Homo sapiens: one gene and its partners. The protein of the gene in region 1 purifies or fractionates together with the protein of each later gene. This does not show direct contact. Each region holds a gene or a part of one and is shown on either strand. Other genes may lie near its edges.

Region 1 (5,564 bases):
AATCCCACTACTGAGCATGTATCCAAAGAGAGTGTCATCAGTGTGTCAAAGAGATGTCAGCACTTCCATGTTTGTTGCAGCCCTATTCACAATAGCTATGAAATGAAAGCAATCTAAGTGTCCATCTACGGATGAGTGTATAAAGGAAATGTGGTATAAATACACAAGGGAATGCTATTCAGCCATAAAACAGAACAGAATATTGCCGTTTGAAATAACCTGGATGAACCTGGAGAATGATATGTAAGTGAGATAAGCCAGTCACACAAAGACAAATACTGCACGGTCACATTCACATGCAGAAGATAAAAAAGTTGATCTCATAGCAGTGTAGAGTAGAATGGTGGTTACCAGACGCTTGTGTTGTTAGGGTGGACAGAGGAATGAGAAGATGTTGGTGAAAGAACATATAATTACAGTTGTATAGAAGGAACCTTTTTTAACTGTCCAGAATATATACAAACAGAAAGTGGATAAGTGATTTCCTGGAGCTGGATGTTGTTGGGGGAGGGGACAGTTGGGGGAGCACGAAGAGCTTCCTTTTGAGTAATGAAAATGTTCTAAAGTTGATTGTGGTGATGATTGCATAACTCTGTGAACAAATTAAAAACCACTAGATTGTTCCCTCTAAGTGGGCCAATTGTATAGTCACGTGACTTATATCTCAATAATGCTGTAAAAGAATGAAAGACATAAAGCAAAGGAAAAAGATGGTATCAGACGAAATACTACAAGGGCTTCATACACAAACTTTCCTATTACAAATCTAATTTTCCTACCATAGAGATAGCCATAAATATCCCTATTGTATCAGTAGGTCTAAGAAATAAAACTTACTGTAATCTCATGAAGACCCTTAATAATTCCAAATGAATGATGAGACTGCTTTTCCTTTCTCATATGTGCAAAGATTTCAGATCGATAGTATTGTTGTCCTTGCCTATATGGGCAGATGGGCAGTCTCACCTCCTATTGCTGAGAGAATCAATTAGTACAATAGAGCTAAAGAATAATTTCATAATAGCCACTGAATGGGCAAATATCTGGGCTCAGGTGATGTTGCCAGGACTCCGTAAATCTGCAAATGTTATTGAATTGTACCCTTAAGAGAGTTTTGTGGTTGGTGAATTATAATTCCATGAAGCTCTTTTTAAAATATTTACAATGCACATGGCTTGACATAGAAATTCCACTGTTTTGAATGCACACTACAGAAAATGTTTTTTTACCTGATAAGGGAAGTTGTAAGATTATAAAGAGTTCAATAATTATTATTGTTACTCATATTGTTTAAAGACTAGAATAATAGATAAGTAAGCTTTTATGTTTTACAGCACAAATTACTACAAATATTACAACAGAAGAAGCTACAGCTTCAGAGGAGGGGGGCTTCAAATTGCAGTCTACATCCACTCTACGGATCACAGCAGAGATGTCGGATTAACTCAAGAAAAGAAAGATGGAGAAAGAAAGCCCACTGGGATAAGACACAATTCCCAAACTCATGCACATCTCACCTTGATTGCTCTCAATCCATAATGTGGTTTATCTTCTTCCACAACCACATTAACTTTTTGTCCAACTTTTAGAGGCACGTTGCCAGTCACAACATCACTACTGAAGTAGATCGACTCATCAATCATGCCATAATCACCACAGAAACTTGTGACAACTCCCTGCACAGTTGTCAACTGGGTGTCACCTACAAGATAAAGAAACAAGGTCACATTATTAGCCTCAAATGCAAACACCTACTACAAGTAAGTCTTACACTCACCATCTGCATAACCCTGGGCAGAGAAGTTTTATAACGTCTCTGACCTTGTTTTCATCTGTCAATCCACAACAATCACAATTTCGCCTAATAGGGTTGTTGTAGGTTTTTAAAATATTTTTAAAAATTTATTAAAATTTAAAAATTTTAATTTTTAATTATTTTTTAATTTTTTGAGCAGAGTCTGGCTCTGTCGCCGGGGCTGGAGTGCAGTGGCGCAATCTGGGCTAGCGGCAACCTCTGCCTCCTGGGTTCAGGTGGTTCTCATGTCTCAGCCTCCCCAGTAGCTGGGACTACAGGTGTGTACCGTCACACCCAGCTAATTTTTGAATTGTTAATAGAGACGGGGTTTTGCCATGTTGCCCAGGCTGGTCTCCAGCTCCTGGCCTCAAGTGATCCACCTACCTGGAACTCCCAAAGAGCTGGGATTACAGGTGTGAGCCACCGCGCCCAGCTTACGAATATTAACTGACACATGCACATCAACTGTCGAGAGCTCTGAGTGCCTTGCACAAGAGTGTGTAAATGTTACCTGTTAGCATTTCTACATATGAGTCTTTAAGCTTCTGCTCCTATTATATTCCTTCATCATTATCACCAACATGATGAGTAGCACCTTCTATAGATACTTAACCATCTCAGCAGACAAAGTACTAAAAGATATCTGGAGATTGAAGGCTAGCCCAAAACGGCATCTGAATGGTTTTCTTTATTTCTCCTTCTTCTTCTTCTTCTTTTTTTTTTATTCTGCACAAGCCTAGCTGATCAGCAATACTTAGGGATCAAACCTCAGCAGTCGCCGGCAGGGGTTCTCTGCCTTCCTTTGGGATCAGATAAGTATGAGGCATCAACTTGGCTTCAAATTACATTCCCGTTTGGGATACAAGCCTAAATTAACTCGCAAATTAGGGAGTTTCTCGCCTACTGGAAATATAAATAGGCATGTGCTGTGCGACCACGTGGGGGAAAAGCACAGGCGGTACAGACCCCAAGGTCTTCTCTGTCAACACCTTCCCGCTTTAGATGGACAGGAGAGTTTGGGGGTTGGTTCTCAGGGAATTGTTGAGGACTCGGGTTGCCTCGGGTTGCCTCCCCATGCACGCACAAGATGGAGCCACCGTCACGTGCAGTACCCACCCGAGTTACAACAGCCTCATTCCGGGGGTGAGGAGAACCCCTATTGGGAGGCTTCTGGGGTGGGGGACAAGGGGACACACAGAGGAATACCTTGTGGGAGGCCCTGCTGCTGTGGGCCCTGTCGCTCTGCAGGGTCGGCCGTCCTCCCGTAGAAGGCCAAAGCAAGTCTCAGAAGCCTGAGCATCGTCCCAGTTGTCACCACCGGCCTGGGCACCGCTTGTGGCAGATGAAGCACGAGGCCTCCTCAGTAAGGGAAGCCCTCAGGTCACGGCGTCTCCTCAGGGACTCACTTCCTGCTTCTCCTCAGACACTGTGGCATGGGACCCACCCGTTAGTGAGCCCCCCTCAGGAGAGTCAGGGACACCGCAGCCTCCAAAGGAGCTCCCAGCTTCTCCGCTGACTTCTCCCTCTGAGCATGCGCTCGTCAGGGCCCGCCTCTACCACTGTCCAACCAATGGGCGTGCAGTGGGTGGGCGGGCAGGTTCTTGTGGCTACTAAAAGGCGATGGGTGGGAACATCGTGGCTTCTCCCATCAAGGCTGAGGGAGCCATTAGGATGGCCTGGGGAAAATGGCTTGGGAGCTTGGGTTCTGCATTTACTAAGGAGATACAGGGCTCTTCTCTTGGGTTCCCTGGGAGGATGGGTGCCTGAAACACCGGCTGTGCAACCAAAAATCCTGCTCCTGCCCTTGTATTCGTGGTGCTTAGCATAAGGAGTCACCACTCAGTGGGCGGTCAATAGTTACTCCTCACCAGGGATCAATTTTGTGGAGAGAGGGCATCATGTGGGTAGGCAATGTTTTAGTGATGGCAAGTACGTGTCTTGTGTACTAGGACTGCCATTTTTAGTCCAGTGATAATTTATAATAGAATCCTTTTATGATCATTGCTACCATGTACTCATCGCTTACCTGGTTATGCTTACATTACTCTGATATACACATTACCCTTATTCATTCATTCAGCAAAACTTGTAGGGCACTAACTGTGAACCAGACACTGTTCTGTGTTCCTAAAATTTGTTAATGAATGAAAGAGTCAAGAATCTTCACCCTGTGAGGGTAGATTTTTCACAGGATGACGAAAGGGTGACACTAAACATCACATAATAAAATATATGGTATGTTAGAAGGCAATAAATGCCATGGAAAAATATAGCAGGACAAGGGAGATCCACAGTGCTGGGCATGGGGTATTGGATTGCACTTTACAATAGCATGGTCAGAGTAGCCCTCATTGGAAAGCAATAGTTGAGAAAGATGTTGGAGTTAGCCAGGCAGCTATTTTTGGAGGAGCCGTTCAGACGGAGGGCACAGTTTGTGCAAAGACCATACAGCAAGACTGTGCGTGATGTATTCAAAGAAAAGCAGTGATTAGAGCAGAGGCAGTGAATAGCTAGAAGAGTGGGAAGTATGGTAAGAGAGATAATAGAGGTTCAGGCTGCATGTGGGATAGTGGGGCACTGGAAGTCCTTTGGCTTTTATTGTCCATGACACGTAAAGTCCCTGAAGGATTTGGAGCCTCCAGGGATCACTCCAGGTGCTTGGTTGTGAACAGGCTGGAAGAGGTCAGAGCAGGAAGCAAGGAGAACAGTTTGGATGATTCTGATGCAATCCATGGGCACTGTGGATGAAACCTGTTTGTCTTTCCTCTCCTACTGTGAGAACAGGTAAGAGCATTGCTGAAGATTATCATCTGGTTAACAGGATCGGTTGAGGGCTATCTATGTCTCAAAATGTAACACAACTGTGTTAATTTCCTAGGGAGGCCACAACACATTACTACGACTGCGTGGCTTTAAACAACAGAAATTTATTCTTCTGCAGTTCTGCAGGCTATGAGTCTGAAATCAAGGTTTCCGTGAGGTTGGTTCTTTCTGGCAAGCTCTGAGGGAGAGTTTATTCCAAGATTCCGTAGGTTGCCAGTAGTCATCGGTTGGCTTCCTTCGGTTGTAGATGCATCACTCCAATCTCTTCCTCCTTCATATCATGGTGCTCTTCTCCATCTGTCTGTGTGTCCAATACACCTCTTCTTATAAGGACACCACTCACTGGATTAAGGGTATATGACTAATCCCAATCCTGTAGGACCTCATCTTAACTTGATTTTTTTTTTTTTTTTTTTGCAAAGACCCTATTCAAAATAAAGTCACATTCACAGGTACTGGAGCTCAGAACCTGAGCATATCTCTTTCAGGGCAAAATTCAACCCACAGCAACTGCTCTTGTAAATTTTGATTACTCCAATATTCTATGATTATCAATGAAAAATTAGGACACACAGGTAAGCACACATTTCCTCTTATTTCTCTGAGAAAACACAGGCCATGAAACAGGAGCCCCTCTGTGAAACTCCTGGCACCCATCCTGGCTTTCTCTTCCTTCTCTTTTGTAACAATGGAAGGACATCGCAGCCCCTGGCCAGGGCTGAAACTCCACTGAGCACATGGAACCATTCTCTTGACACATTTTCTCTGAGGATGTTGCTTCTATTGCTGTTGCCTCTCTTCATCCTGCATCAACAATCTTTTTTTTTTTTAATCTTTGCCTGCAAAGGAATAACATACAAACATACACAAGAATCACCCATCTTAAAAACTTCACAAATAACTCCCATCTTAAAAATGTACATAGATAAATAAGCTTCCTTGGCCT
Region 2 (4,014 bases), on another chromosome or scaffold:
AGCAAATTCCAACAAGAGAGAAGTATCACTGGATGGCAAACGGAGAGTGGGGTCCCAGCCTCACTCTGAGGGCAGGTATGACCTCAGGAAAAGCACTTCCCCGGTGGGCCCTGGAGTCCCTGTGTCAAAGGAGGGCTGCACAGGATTCTAACTGCACTTCAAGTCCCCATGTCTCCTCCAGTCAGGGGAACTCTGCTTTCATATGGCTCACATTACGAGTTCCACTGAAGGTTTCATTAGTGGGGAAAAGGGCTTTGCCGCTAAGAAAGAACACTGGAACCAGAATTTGAAGGTCTGAAATGTGCCAAGTGAGCTGTGGCTGTGAACGCATGGTGACGATTTGGTCCACACAGCGTGGCTCAAAGCAGCATTTTCTAAACCTGCCTGCACAGCACAGACCCCTGAGTTGGTAGCGAGGGTTCCCTACAAAGGGGTTCCCTGGGCAGTAGGTTTGACAGATACTCCTTTTTGGAGAGTCAAAATAACCACTGGTCAAATCTCCATGAATGCCACATTAAGGCACTTTTTAACTTTCACTCAACAACGAGTATAGGACCTGTGGAACTCAGACCCCTGGCCACTGTCATTGCAAAGGGACACAAGTGCTCACAAGTGGAAATCGGTACACACTGGGTCAGTCCCTGTCCCTGCTCTAGCTATGGCAAAGCCCCAAGAGAACACTTTGAAAAGTTATGAGGCGGAAGCCAAACAAAACCCACAACTCAAAAGATTAAATCCCAATGTAGTACCATATTGCATTCTATGATTTCCCATCTAGCCTGTAGCTCTTTGCATACTGAAAGTCTAGGGCAGTGCTGGGGACCCAGGGAGAATCAACAGGTATTTACTCATCACCTGTGGATACCTGTCACATCACCGCAGTCATTCCATATGACAACCCCCATGTTCCTCTCACTTCTAATTTTTAAAAGTCAGTCTCAAATCTTTAACTCACAGCTGCAAACTGTACTCTTAAAATATTTGTGAAATTGTGCAGATGTTATTTCCATCTGTCCTTTTGAGAACTACTGATAGTGTGATTTGGGAATATTTCCAATTCTGGCTGAGGCAGGGCAGGGCGAGGGCCAAACGCTAGGGCTGGACTGGGCATAGTTTACATCAGCCACAGGTGTCACCCCGCCGGTGTCAGAGGGTTTGCTTCCCTGAAATAGTAACTGTTTATATCACTCTGCACTTGTAATAACATCCTGCCAAAGGGCCCCACTTTCCCACAACTTTTACACTACGCAGAGATCTGACGTCAGCGTGTGCTGTGAGCAAAACATCTTCGATCAAGCTCTGTTCTGCATGAGGGTTGCTGCCCCTCCCAAGATCAAACAAGGCAGCCGCCCAGAGAGCCACAACTGCGGCTTCCAACTGGGAAATCATATTGGCAAAATAAAAACCGTTTTGGAAATTAATTTGAGTTTTCCCCTGAGGAGCGCTATAGACAGCGGGGCTACCATAAGCCGTCACTTCTGCAAGTGAGAGAGGTTTCTCGGTTGACTCTTAGATCTGGGTCTACTGAGTCTACGGAGCACGGAAAATGGAAGGAAAACCTAGAGCTAACAGGGTGGCCTATCAGGATGCGCCCAGTCACGCTTGTCAAGAGTTAAAGCAGCTGCCACCTAACCCCATGACGAGGACGGGGCTATCCGCTAGGACCTGCCGCCCCGCGCTCGCCCGCTGAGTCGATGGACCAGCGGACCGAGTCCGGGTCCCCATGCCATTCGGGCACCCTCTGGGCGGGCCCTACCGGTCCGCGACGCCGCGCCCCTGGTGAAGGGGCCGCTGCCCCACGCCGTCAAGGGCAGGGTGCTGGGGCGACGGCAGCGGGTATGGGGTCAGCGCGCCATCCCCGCGCACGGACCTGCCGCTCCTCGGCCTGTATCCCGTACTCCTCGCGCATCCGCAGCAGCGCGTCCTCCAGCCGCGCGCGCAGCTGCTCCAACCCGAGCGCCTCGCGCCGCAGCGCCTCTGCCTCCTGCGCGCACAGCCGCGTCTCTTCCTCCGCCTGGAGTCTGCTCTCCTGGCCGCGCCGCAGCGCCTCCTCCAGCTCGCGCACCTCGTCCTCGTACAGCTGCACCGTCTCCCGCCACGACTCGGCCACCAGCAGTGCGTAGCTGTCGTGCACCTCCCGCAGGCGTGGCGGCGGCGCGGCGGGGCCGGTGGCGCGGGCGCGGAAATGCATGGTAAGGCTGGCGGCGCGCGCGCGCAGCTCCCTCACGTCGCGTTCGTGGGCCGCGTCGAGGCCTCGGCGCTCGGCCTGCAGCCGGCCCAGCAGCGCCTCGAGGGCGGCGCGCGCGCCCAGCGCCTCCTGCAGCTCGCGCTGCTGCGCACCCAGCTCGGCGTCCAGGCGGCCGCGGGCGGCGCGCTCCTCCGCATCCAGGCGCTGCAGCTCCCGCAGCTCGCGCCGCAGAGCGTCCCGCTCGCCCTCCGCCAGCGCAGTGGCCCAGCTCAGCTCGTCCAGCTGCTGCCGCAAGCTGCGCGCCTCCTCGGCGCAGCGGGCCTGCCCCTCGGCCCACAGGCCCTCTCGCCCGCGCCGGCCGCGCAGCTCCTCCTCCAGGAGTAGGTTTTCGCGCTCCAGCTCCCGCACCCGACACACGTAGTCATAGAGCCGGGCGTTGAGCTCCTGGAGCTCGGCCTTCTCGGGGCCCGTCTGCAGCCGCCAGGACAGCATCTTGCCGGGCGTGCGGGGTTCTCGCGGCTGGCCGGCTCCCTCCTGCCCTGGTCTTGTCCCGGTCTCGTCCTCTCCGCCGCGACGCTCCGGCCTCGCCGCTGCCCCGGAGGCCCGCAGACTGGGACGCGAGCGGGAGAGCCCAGGCACTTAGCGGACGGGGCGGGCAGACTGGGCGGGCGGCCTGGGCGAGGGCCGCGGCCTCCAGCCAATCAGAGCGCGGCCCGGCGCGGCCTCTGCGGCCGCACAGCGCCCCCTGCCGCACCTTGGCGGCCGCAGGTGGTCGGTGCGGGCAGTCGGGTAACAGCGGGCGGGGTGGCGGGCTAGCCAGGCCGGGCTCAGCGAAGGGACGCCGGAGAGGGCGTCCGGGAGCATACGAGTGTCCTGGCCTTGGTGGATGGAAATAGAAGCCTATTGAGTTGCTGTGGTGCTGGCGATTTTGGAGCGACTTCTTACCCGAGGCCCTGGAGATTGGTGGCTTTTCTATTTTTAAAAAAACGATATGGGCCGGGCGCGGTGGCTCAGGCCTATAATCCCAGCATTTTGGGAAGCCGAGGTGGGAGGCTCGCTTGAGCCCAGGAGTTCGAGACCAGCCTGAGCAACATAGAGAGACCCTGTCTCTACCAAAAAAAAAAAAAAAAAAAAAATATATATATATATATATATATATGGAGCCTGGCGTGGTGGTGTCACACGCGCTGCTTGGGAGGCTGAGGCGGGAGGATTACTCGAACCCAGGAGTTCAGGGCTGCAGTGAACCTGATTGTGGCACTGCGCTCCAGCCTGGGCAACAGAGAGAGGCCTCATCTCATATATATACATTACACATACATGTGCATTAATTTTTTTTTTTTTTTTTTTGAGACAGAGTGTCGCTCTTGTTGCCCAGGCTGGAGTGCAATGGCACGATCTCGGCTCACCACAGCCTCCGCCTCCCGGGTTCAAGCGATTCTCCTGCCTCAGCCTCCCGAGTAACCGGGATTACAGGCCAGCGCCACCACGCCTGGCTAATTTTTTTTTTTTTTTTTTTTTTTTTTTTTTGTATTTTTGGTAGAGACGGGGTTTCTCCATGTTGGTCAGGCTGGTCTCGAACTCACGACCTCAGGTGATCCGCCCACCTCGGCCTCCCAAAGTCCTGGGATTACTGGCGTGAGCTACCGTGCCCAGCCTAAATAATCTTTTTAACTTAAAACATAAATATATATCCATTTACCAGTATTTTAATGTGCAAAATACTTCTCTTGATGTCAGTTGACAGGAGTCCCAGTTGCCCTTCTTATACAAGCTACCCTCATAGTACATTACATTTTCCAAAACGAATTTCTTTCATTTGGAGT
Region 3 (4,244 bases), on another chromosome or scaffold:
TCAGAGTCATCTGAAAAGCATTCTGAAGACATACCCACTAAATGTCTTACCCTAAACATACAATATCAGCAGCTCTGGGAGTGGAGTGTAGGCACTGATATTTTCTCTTCTATGTTATCTACACACCATCCCTACCTACTTTAATAATGGTATAATAGTGGGTAACACTCACAGGTACTTTTTTTTTTTTTGAGACGGAGTCCCGCTCTTTAGCCCAGGCCGGATTGCAGTGGCACAATCTTGGCTCACTGCAAGCTCCGCCTCCCAGGTTCACGCCATTCTCCTGCCTCAGCCTCCCAAGTAGCTGGGACTACAGGCGCCCGCCACCGCGCCCGGCTAATTTTTTGTATTTTTAGTAGAGACGGGGTTTCACCGTGTTAGCCAAGATGGTCTCGATCTCCTGACCTTGTGATCCGCCCGCCTCGGCCTCCCAAAGTGCTGGGATTACAGGCGTGAGCCACCGCGCCCAGCCCACTCACAGGTACTTTTATTCTTTGTAACAACTCTACCAGCTGGGAATTGTTACTATTTGCATTTTACAGATGAGGAATCTGAGGCACAAAATGGTTAAATATAATCCATCCATGGATTCCTTCTCTGGTGACTGCCATCCCACCTATGGCAAATCTGTGTGTATAATGCGGTCTACGGACTAGGTGTGGGTTTAGATTCACTGTACATGAGAATGACATTATATAAGTCACGGTTTCTTTGCCTCACTTGTTCTTCAGAATTCAAAGGGCCCTCTGATCTAAATCCCAGTGTCCCAATCCTCTAATACAAGCACCCTAGGGTGGTGGTTGTCTGTGTGTGTGTGTGTGTTTAGAAGCTGTCACCCTAACTCACTGCAGCCTCAAACTCCTAGGCTCAAGTGATCCTCCTGCCTCAAACTCCTGAGCAGCTGGGGCTACAGGTGTTAGCCACCCCATGCCCAGCAAATTTTTTATTGCTTTGTAAAGACAGGATCTTACTATGTTGCCCAGGATGGTTTCAAACTCCTGGCCTCAAGCAATTCCCACCCCCCAACCTCCACCACTTCGGCCTCCAAAAGTGCTGGGATTATAGGCGTGAGCCACCTAGCCAGGCCTAGGTGGTGAGTTTTGACCACAAACCTGTGTTACATTCACTTTCTGGGCAGTCACAAGCTTCTTAGAAGCAGGTTAAGTACCTGTACCCTAAAGGCATCTCAGGCCAATACAAAGGGTTGCCCTTCTTAGATAAGGGCACTACAGGACACCTATCAGAAGATCCTGATGGGATGCCCGGCAGGAACACTAACTAGAAACGCGGCCCTCCTGTACCATAAAAACAAACTCCTGGTGTTACTTCAAAATCTACTGCCTAGCCTTGACTCACTGTATAGCAGGCCCTACCTATACTGGTTAAGGAATGTAAGATCAAGCTGTTTCCTATCTCTGTGTGCTTCCTCCACTACACTGGTTCCTAAATCCTTCAGGTCCCGTTGTCAACATGCCATTTTTCTTGTTTTCTGACTGCAAGTCTTCTCGCAAAGCAAATCCACATAAAGCATCACCTGCTTGAGCTTAAAAACAAAAAAAAATGCAGCCTCGCATCTAACCTACTAGTTTGATCTCACCAATGCCACACAATAGTAAATACATTTTACATAATGTATACCACGTATGCACTTTACATAATGTCCAGTAAGTCATGTGTTTCCAAACGCGAGATCATCAATTTGAGACTTTCTATCCTCTGCCCCCATCCCTAACAGGCTAAGAAAGGCGGCTGCAAAGTCTTTAAGGTGTTTCATGTGTATTTCCGCCCACCAACTTCTTCAGCTTCTTAATACTGACTTCCACGTACTCCTTTGAGACTAAAAACCGGGGACAGATCCAGTCTTATCATTGGTTTTAACTTCACACACCACAGACGGGTTTTCGAAGAACGAACCGTATTTGAGACACTAAACATGTCAAGACCTACACTGAGCTGTATGATGTGATGGGGTGTATAGAGAAATCATTTTCGGTGTCACGAACTTGCAATTAAGCTACCACCTCTCCATTCTTTAGAGTTAAGGCGGGGAGGAGTGAGGGGCGTGGGAACGCAGAGAGAGGCGGAAAAAGAGGATGATCATTTCACAGGGATAGTTAATTTCCCTTTCAGGTGAGTTCCCAGCAGCGCAGGTGGAAAGCTGCGGAATCTAACGCTATCCACACGGCACAGCTGGCTTCAGGAGGTACCTGAGAGCGGAGGGCGGTCGGGTTCCTGGCCGCCGCGGGCGGGCGGCGCGGGGTTGAGCAGGTGCGCGAAGCTGGCGGCGAAGGGGTTGGCGGCCAGCGGCTCGGTGCGGTACATCTCCCAGAGCAGGTAGAGCGCCGTGAGGCGCTGCGCCGCGCTAGGCAGCAGGTCGGGCTGCTGGAGCAGCATGACGAGCACCGAGCCCAGGCGGAAGTGGTCGGCCTTGCTGAAGTAGTGGTGGAAGGCGGTGGACAGGCCCTCGAAGGTGCTGCCGCCGCCCGCCTCCTCCGATATGATGCTCAGCAGGCTCGAGAGCTCCTTCGGGGTCAAGCTCATCCTGCCCGCGGGGCCCCCCGGGCCTCCGCTCCCGGACCCGGGGCCGCTTGCTCCGCCTCTGCCGCCGCCGGAGCCCCCGAAGCCGCTCCTGGACGCCGACCCTGCCGCTTCCCGGGACCCTCTTTGCTCCGCGGCGGTGAGAAGCCGGCCAGACGCCGCGCTCGCCCCTCCGCCGGGCATCAACCTCGCTCCCCTTCCCCTCTTCCCGGCCCGAGGGGCCCTGGCGCCGGCTCGCTCCGTCCCCGCGGCCGTAAAGCGCGCTGTTACACGACAGCGTCGCAAACAAAACACGTCGGGGAAACCAGACCGCCGCGGAGAGGGACAGCGCCCAGCGAAAGCGAGGCTGATGGAGCGAAGCCAGGAAGAGGATGCGGAGACGCGGGGTAGGCGGGGCGAATTGGCAGGAAGCGGGGGCGGGGCCCGGGAAGGGAGGGGAGGGGCGGGGCGAGGTCGGGCTGGTGGCGTTCAGGGTTAGGTCTGCCGAGGTCCCGCGGCAGGAGAGCCCGGGGACTGCATGCGTCTGCGCAGCTGCGAGGTTAAGCCGCCCTTTGGCGGTCCCCAGGACGGTTCCTGGTGCCAGACGGTCCCAGTAAGTGCTGTCTACGTTATTATTTGGAAGAATGCACCTCAGATGTTAACTATTTTCTTAATATAACATCCGTAAGTATTCGTCGTAAAAAGTATTGTAAATGCAGGCCGGGCGTGGTGGCGCGTGCCTGTAATCCCAGCACTTTGAGAGTCCTAGGCGGGAGGGTCGCTTGAGCCCGGGAGTCCCAGGCTGCAGTGAGCTGTGATCACCACTGCATTGCAGCCCGGGCGCTCTGTCTCAGAAACATTTTTTTTAATTTAGTAAATGCAAATATACCACACATTTCACATAACCACGGTTAATTTCTAGTCTTACACTCATTGCAGAAATGGAATCATACTGCACTATGAGCTTTTTTGTACATGGTTTTTTCTCTTAACATGATTTCGAGAACATGTCTCCAGTTAATATTCATTTACAAAATTGTTTGCTGTGCCACGTTTTACTTAGATTGCCCTAGGGCACTTATCCTGGGCACTTAGCTGTGCATTAGAAACCCACGGGGAGACGTTACAAATACCTAGTTCCACCCCCAGAGATGCTGATTGAGATATTAATAAACCCCACCTCTTCAGGTGAGTCTGAGGTGTAGTCTGGGCTGAGAACCACCAGGTGGCATTTCCCAGACTTGCCCGGTCCCTAAACCTACAGAAACGTACGCGTATTTCGCCAGTGATTACCACCAGCGATTCTAATTATCTAGTTAAGAGCCACCTCAATTCTTTTTTAAAACATATTTTTATTTTATTTTATGTGTTTTTGGGGAGAAAGATATTTTATGTAAAAAAAATTTTTTTCATCTTTTTAAAACTTGTATTTCAGTAGTTTTGGGGGTACAGGTGGTTTTTGGTTACATGGATAAGTTTTTAGTGGTGATTTCTGAGACTTTGGTGCACCCGTCACCAGAGCAGTGTACGCTGTACCTGTCAGGCCTCTGAGCCCAAGCCTGCACATATACATCCACATGGCCTGAAGTAACTGAAGAATCACAAAAGAAGTGCAAATGGCTGGTTCCTGCCTTAACTGATGACATTACCTTGTGAAATCCCTTCTCCTGGCTCAGAAGCTCCCCCGCTGAGCACCTTATGACCCCCGCCCCGGCCTGCCAGAGAAC
Region 4 (3,500 bases), on another chromosome or scaffold:
TTAGGGTTACTAAGTGGCCGAATTTCAGTGTCATTGTGTCTCAGGCAATAGCAAAGCCTGAGGAGAGAGAGAGAGATGGAATGGCTGGTTGGTGAAGCAGCGAGAATACACACAATAATTACCAATTAAGTTCACTGTCTTACATGGGCTCCCTTCATGATGCCCCAAAACAATTACAATAGCAACATGAAAGATCCCTGTTGGCTGGGCATGGTGGCTCATGCCTGTAATCCCAGCACTTTGGGAGGCTGAGGTCGGGAGTTCAAGACCAGCCTGACCAACATGGAGAAACCCCATCTCTACTAAAAATACAAAATTAGCCGGGCGTGGTGGCACATGCCTGTAATCCTAGCTACTCGGGAGGCTGAGGCAGGAGAATCACTTGAACCCAAGAGGTGGAGGTTGCCATGAGCCACGATCATGCCACTGCACTCCTGCCTGGGCAACAAGAGCAAAACTCCGTCTCAAAAAAAAAAAGAAAGCTCCCTGATCACTGATCACCATAACAAATAATAATGAAAAACTTTGAAGTATTTTGAGAATTACCAAAATGTGGTAACAGAGACATGAAGTGAGCACATGCTGTTGTAAAAATGGAACTGACAGATTGTCAAGGCAGCGTTGCCAAATACCTACAAAATTTGCTAAAAATGCAGTATCTGCAACATATAATAAAGCAAAGCACAATAAGCCAAAGTATGCCTGAATTTAAAACCTTAAGAATTCTCCATTTCATAAAAATGAGAAAAAGAACAAAATGTGAACATAATGAAATGATTCCTTAGGGCAACTTCGTGGCATAGTGCCACCATTTGACCTATTTCAGGAAACAAAGTAAATGATATTGTTTATACCATGTAGACCTCTCCTAAAACAAGGTCTGAGCTGAAGCATTGCTCAGTTTTAAAAATATCCAAGTTAGGCCAGGCACAGTGGCTCACACCAACACTCTGGGAAGCCAAGGTGGGAGGATGGCTTGAGGCCAGGAGTTCAACCAGCCTGGGCAACATAGCAAGACCCCGTCTCTACCAAAAAACTTAAAAAACAGCTGAGAGTGGTAGAACACTGTAGTCTCAGTGACTAAGGAGGCTGAGGCAGGAAGATAGCTTGAGCCCAGGAGCTCAAGGCCAGCCTAGCCAACATGGTAGAGACGGGGTTTCACCATGTTGGCCAGGCTGGTCTCGAACTCCTGACCTCAGGTGATCCACCTGCCTTGGCCTCCCAAAGTGCTGAGATTACAGGCGTGAGACACCACTCCTGGCACTGCCCTGATTTTTGACACCCATGACAGATCACCTCTATCATGACTTTAAAGAGGTCTGAAGTCAGGCAAAAGAAAGCCTGGGAAAAGCTGACTCTGTCATCTCAGTGCATGTACAAGTGCAAGCAAGCTCTAGTGTGTTACATGTCGCTTTTCCCACAGTTCCCATTGGGAGCTGACTACAGTCATAACTCTGTCTACTGACCTTCAACCTCTCCTCACACTAGTTATATGATAAAAACAGCCATCACAGGAATTCTTGATGAAAGTTCACAGGTTTACAATTTGTTCCACTGCAAAGGTAACAAAAAATTCTGGTTCTTAAATTTTAGATACAATTTCAAAATGACATCCTATTTCTTTCCATTCCATATACTAACTTAAAATGTGAAATAGCTAGCAGAACTAATTTGCAAAGAGAGAAAGTTAAAATGTTAGAAGCATACTCTTATCAGATGCAGTTAATTTAAGGGAAAAAAGTAGCTTAACTTCTCATTAAGGGTTTGCAAAGACTTCTGCTATAGATGCAAAATGAGGATACTTGTTTCTATCTCCTCACACTAGGAAAGTTCACAACGTCCATGTTACAGATGCACATAACATCAGGCCACTGCCCAGGTGAATGTTTAGCTAGAAAAGCAACATTTACTATACCTGAAAATAGCCCAGAGTTGTCTATTGGGCCAGGAAATAGGTTATGTTCACCCACATTGTACATGTCCCAGCTGTCAAAGCCCACATACTTCTTCCACTGCTTGAACCACCGGCTGTCAATAAGATACCTAGAGAGAGACAGAAATTTACTGTAGCAGAAAAGCTGAGATTATAAATTTCTGCAGCTGCTTCCTTAATCTTTTTTATGGTCCTTCCACTTGGGGCATATGCAATACCCACTAAAAAACACTGTCACAAGAGCAAGAGCAGGGCCCAGGCCCCACATGGCACAGAGAGTCTGGCCCAGGGTATGCATCCATTAAGTGAAATGATTGTTCAAAGAGTGAATAAAAGAAAGAAAACAAGTGGTTTCAAAATGCTTATTTAAATGCAGTCTTTCTTTTTTTTTCTTTTAGACGGAGTCTTGTTCTGTCGCCCAGGCTGGAGTATAGTGACACAATCTTGGCTCACTGCAACCTCTGCCTCCCAGGTTCAAGCGATTCTCCTGCCTCAGCCTCCTGACTAACTGGGATTACAGGCACCTGTCACCACTCCCAGCTAATTTTTGTATTTTTAGTAGAGACGGGGTTTCACCATGTTGGGCAGGCTGGTCTCAAACTCCTGACCTCAGGTGATCCGCCTACTTCGGCCTCCCAAAGTGCTGGGATTACAGGCATGAGCCACTGCACCTGGCCTCTTTTTTTTTTTTTTTTTTTTTTGAGACGGAGTTTTCGCTCTTGTTGCCCAAGCTGGAGTGCAGTGGTATGATCTTGGCTCACTACAACCTCCACCTCCTGGGTTCAAGCAATTCTCCTGCCTCAGCCTCCCAAGTAGCTGGGATTACAGGCATGCATCACCAGGCCCAGCTAATTTTTTTGTATTTTTAGTAGAGATGGAGTTTCACCATGTTGGCCAGGCTGGTCTCGAACTCCTGATCTCAGGTGATCCTCCTGCCTTGGCCTCCCAAAGTGCTGTGATTACATGCATGAGCTACCACACTCAGTCTAAATGGAGTCTTTTCATGGGTAAAATCATGTTTGCTAATAAACAAGTCATTAACTTCTTTTTTTTTTGAGACAGAGTTTCGCTCTTGTTACCCAGGCTGGAGTGCAATGGTGTGATCTCGGCTCTCCGCAACCTCCGCCTCCCGGGTTCAAGTGATTCTCCTGCCTCAGTCTCCCGTAGCTGGGATTACAGGTGTGTGCCACCACACCTGGCTAATTTTGTATTTTTAGTAGAGACAGGGTTTCTCCATGTTGGTCAGGACAGTCTCAAACTCCCTACCTCAGGTAATCTGCCCACCTCGGCCTCCCAAAGTGCTGTGATTACAGGCGTGAGCCACCGCACCCGGCCACAAGTCATTAATTTCATAATGATCTTTACAGAAGTCCCACTCCAGGCAGACAGTTTGGTTACACTGTTTTGCTTGACATGAACAGCACTAAACTAATGCTCTTTCTGAAAATGGGTTAGAAACACCACCCACTTCAGTTTTCCTTTAAGGACCAAAGGAGTTCCAAAAATGTACACACAAGGCCAGGCGCAGTGGCTCACACCTGTAATCCCAGCACTTTGAGAGGCCGAG

What was found. The genes of interacting proteins can lie anywhere in the genome.
Region 2: the proteins of CT55 (region 1) and SYNM purify together in Homo sapiens (affinity purification with mass spectrometry; 3 studies listed by BioGRID and IntAct, with this or other methods). This does not show direct contact.
Region 3: the proteins of CT55 (region 1) and CNOT11 purify together in Homo sapiens (affinity purification with mass spectrometry; 3 studies listed by BioGRID and IntAct, with this or other methods). This does not show direct contact.
Region 4: the proteins of CT55 (region 1) and USP4 purify together in Homo sapiens (affinity purification with mass spectrometry; 3 studies listed by BioGRID and IntAct, with this or other methods). This does not show direct contact.

Annotation. Positions count from the first base shown.
Region 1 is NC_000023.11:135,168,077-135,173,640, forward strand, and holds the start of CT55 (cancer/testis antigen 55), read right to left. Parts: upstream 3,323-5,564; 5' UTR 3,096-3,322; coding exon 3,002-3,095; intron 1,703-3,001; coding exon 1,518-1,702; intron 1-1,517. UniProt on the Homo sapiens protein: Plays a role in spermatogenesis, possibly acting in the regulation of the autophagy pathway.
Region 2 is NC_000015.10:99,103,866-99,107,879, reverse strand, and holds the start of SYNM (synemin), read right to left. Parts: upstream 2,801-4,014; 5' UTR 2,681-2,800; coding exon 1,871-2,680; intron 1-1,870. UniProt on the Homo sapiens protein: Type-VI intermediate filament (IF) which plays an important cytoskeletal role within the muscle cell cytoskeleton.
Region 3 is NC_000002.12:101,251,442-101,255,685, reverse strand, and holds the start of CNOT11 (CCR4-NOT transcription complex subunit 11), read right to left. Parts: upstream 2,801-4,244; 5' UTR 2,722-2,800; coding exon 2,208-2,721; intron 1-2,207. UniProt on the Homo sapiens protein: Component of the CCR4-NOT complex which is one of the major cellular mRNA deadenylases and is linked to various cellular processes including bulk mRNA degradation, miRNA-mediated repression, translational repression during translational initiation and general transcription regulation.
Region 4 is NC_000003.12:49,333,554-49,337,053, forward strand, and holds part of USP4 (ubiquitin carboxyl-terminal hydrolase 4), read right to left. Parts: intron 2,044-3,500; coding exon 1,916-2,043; intron 1-1,915.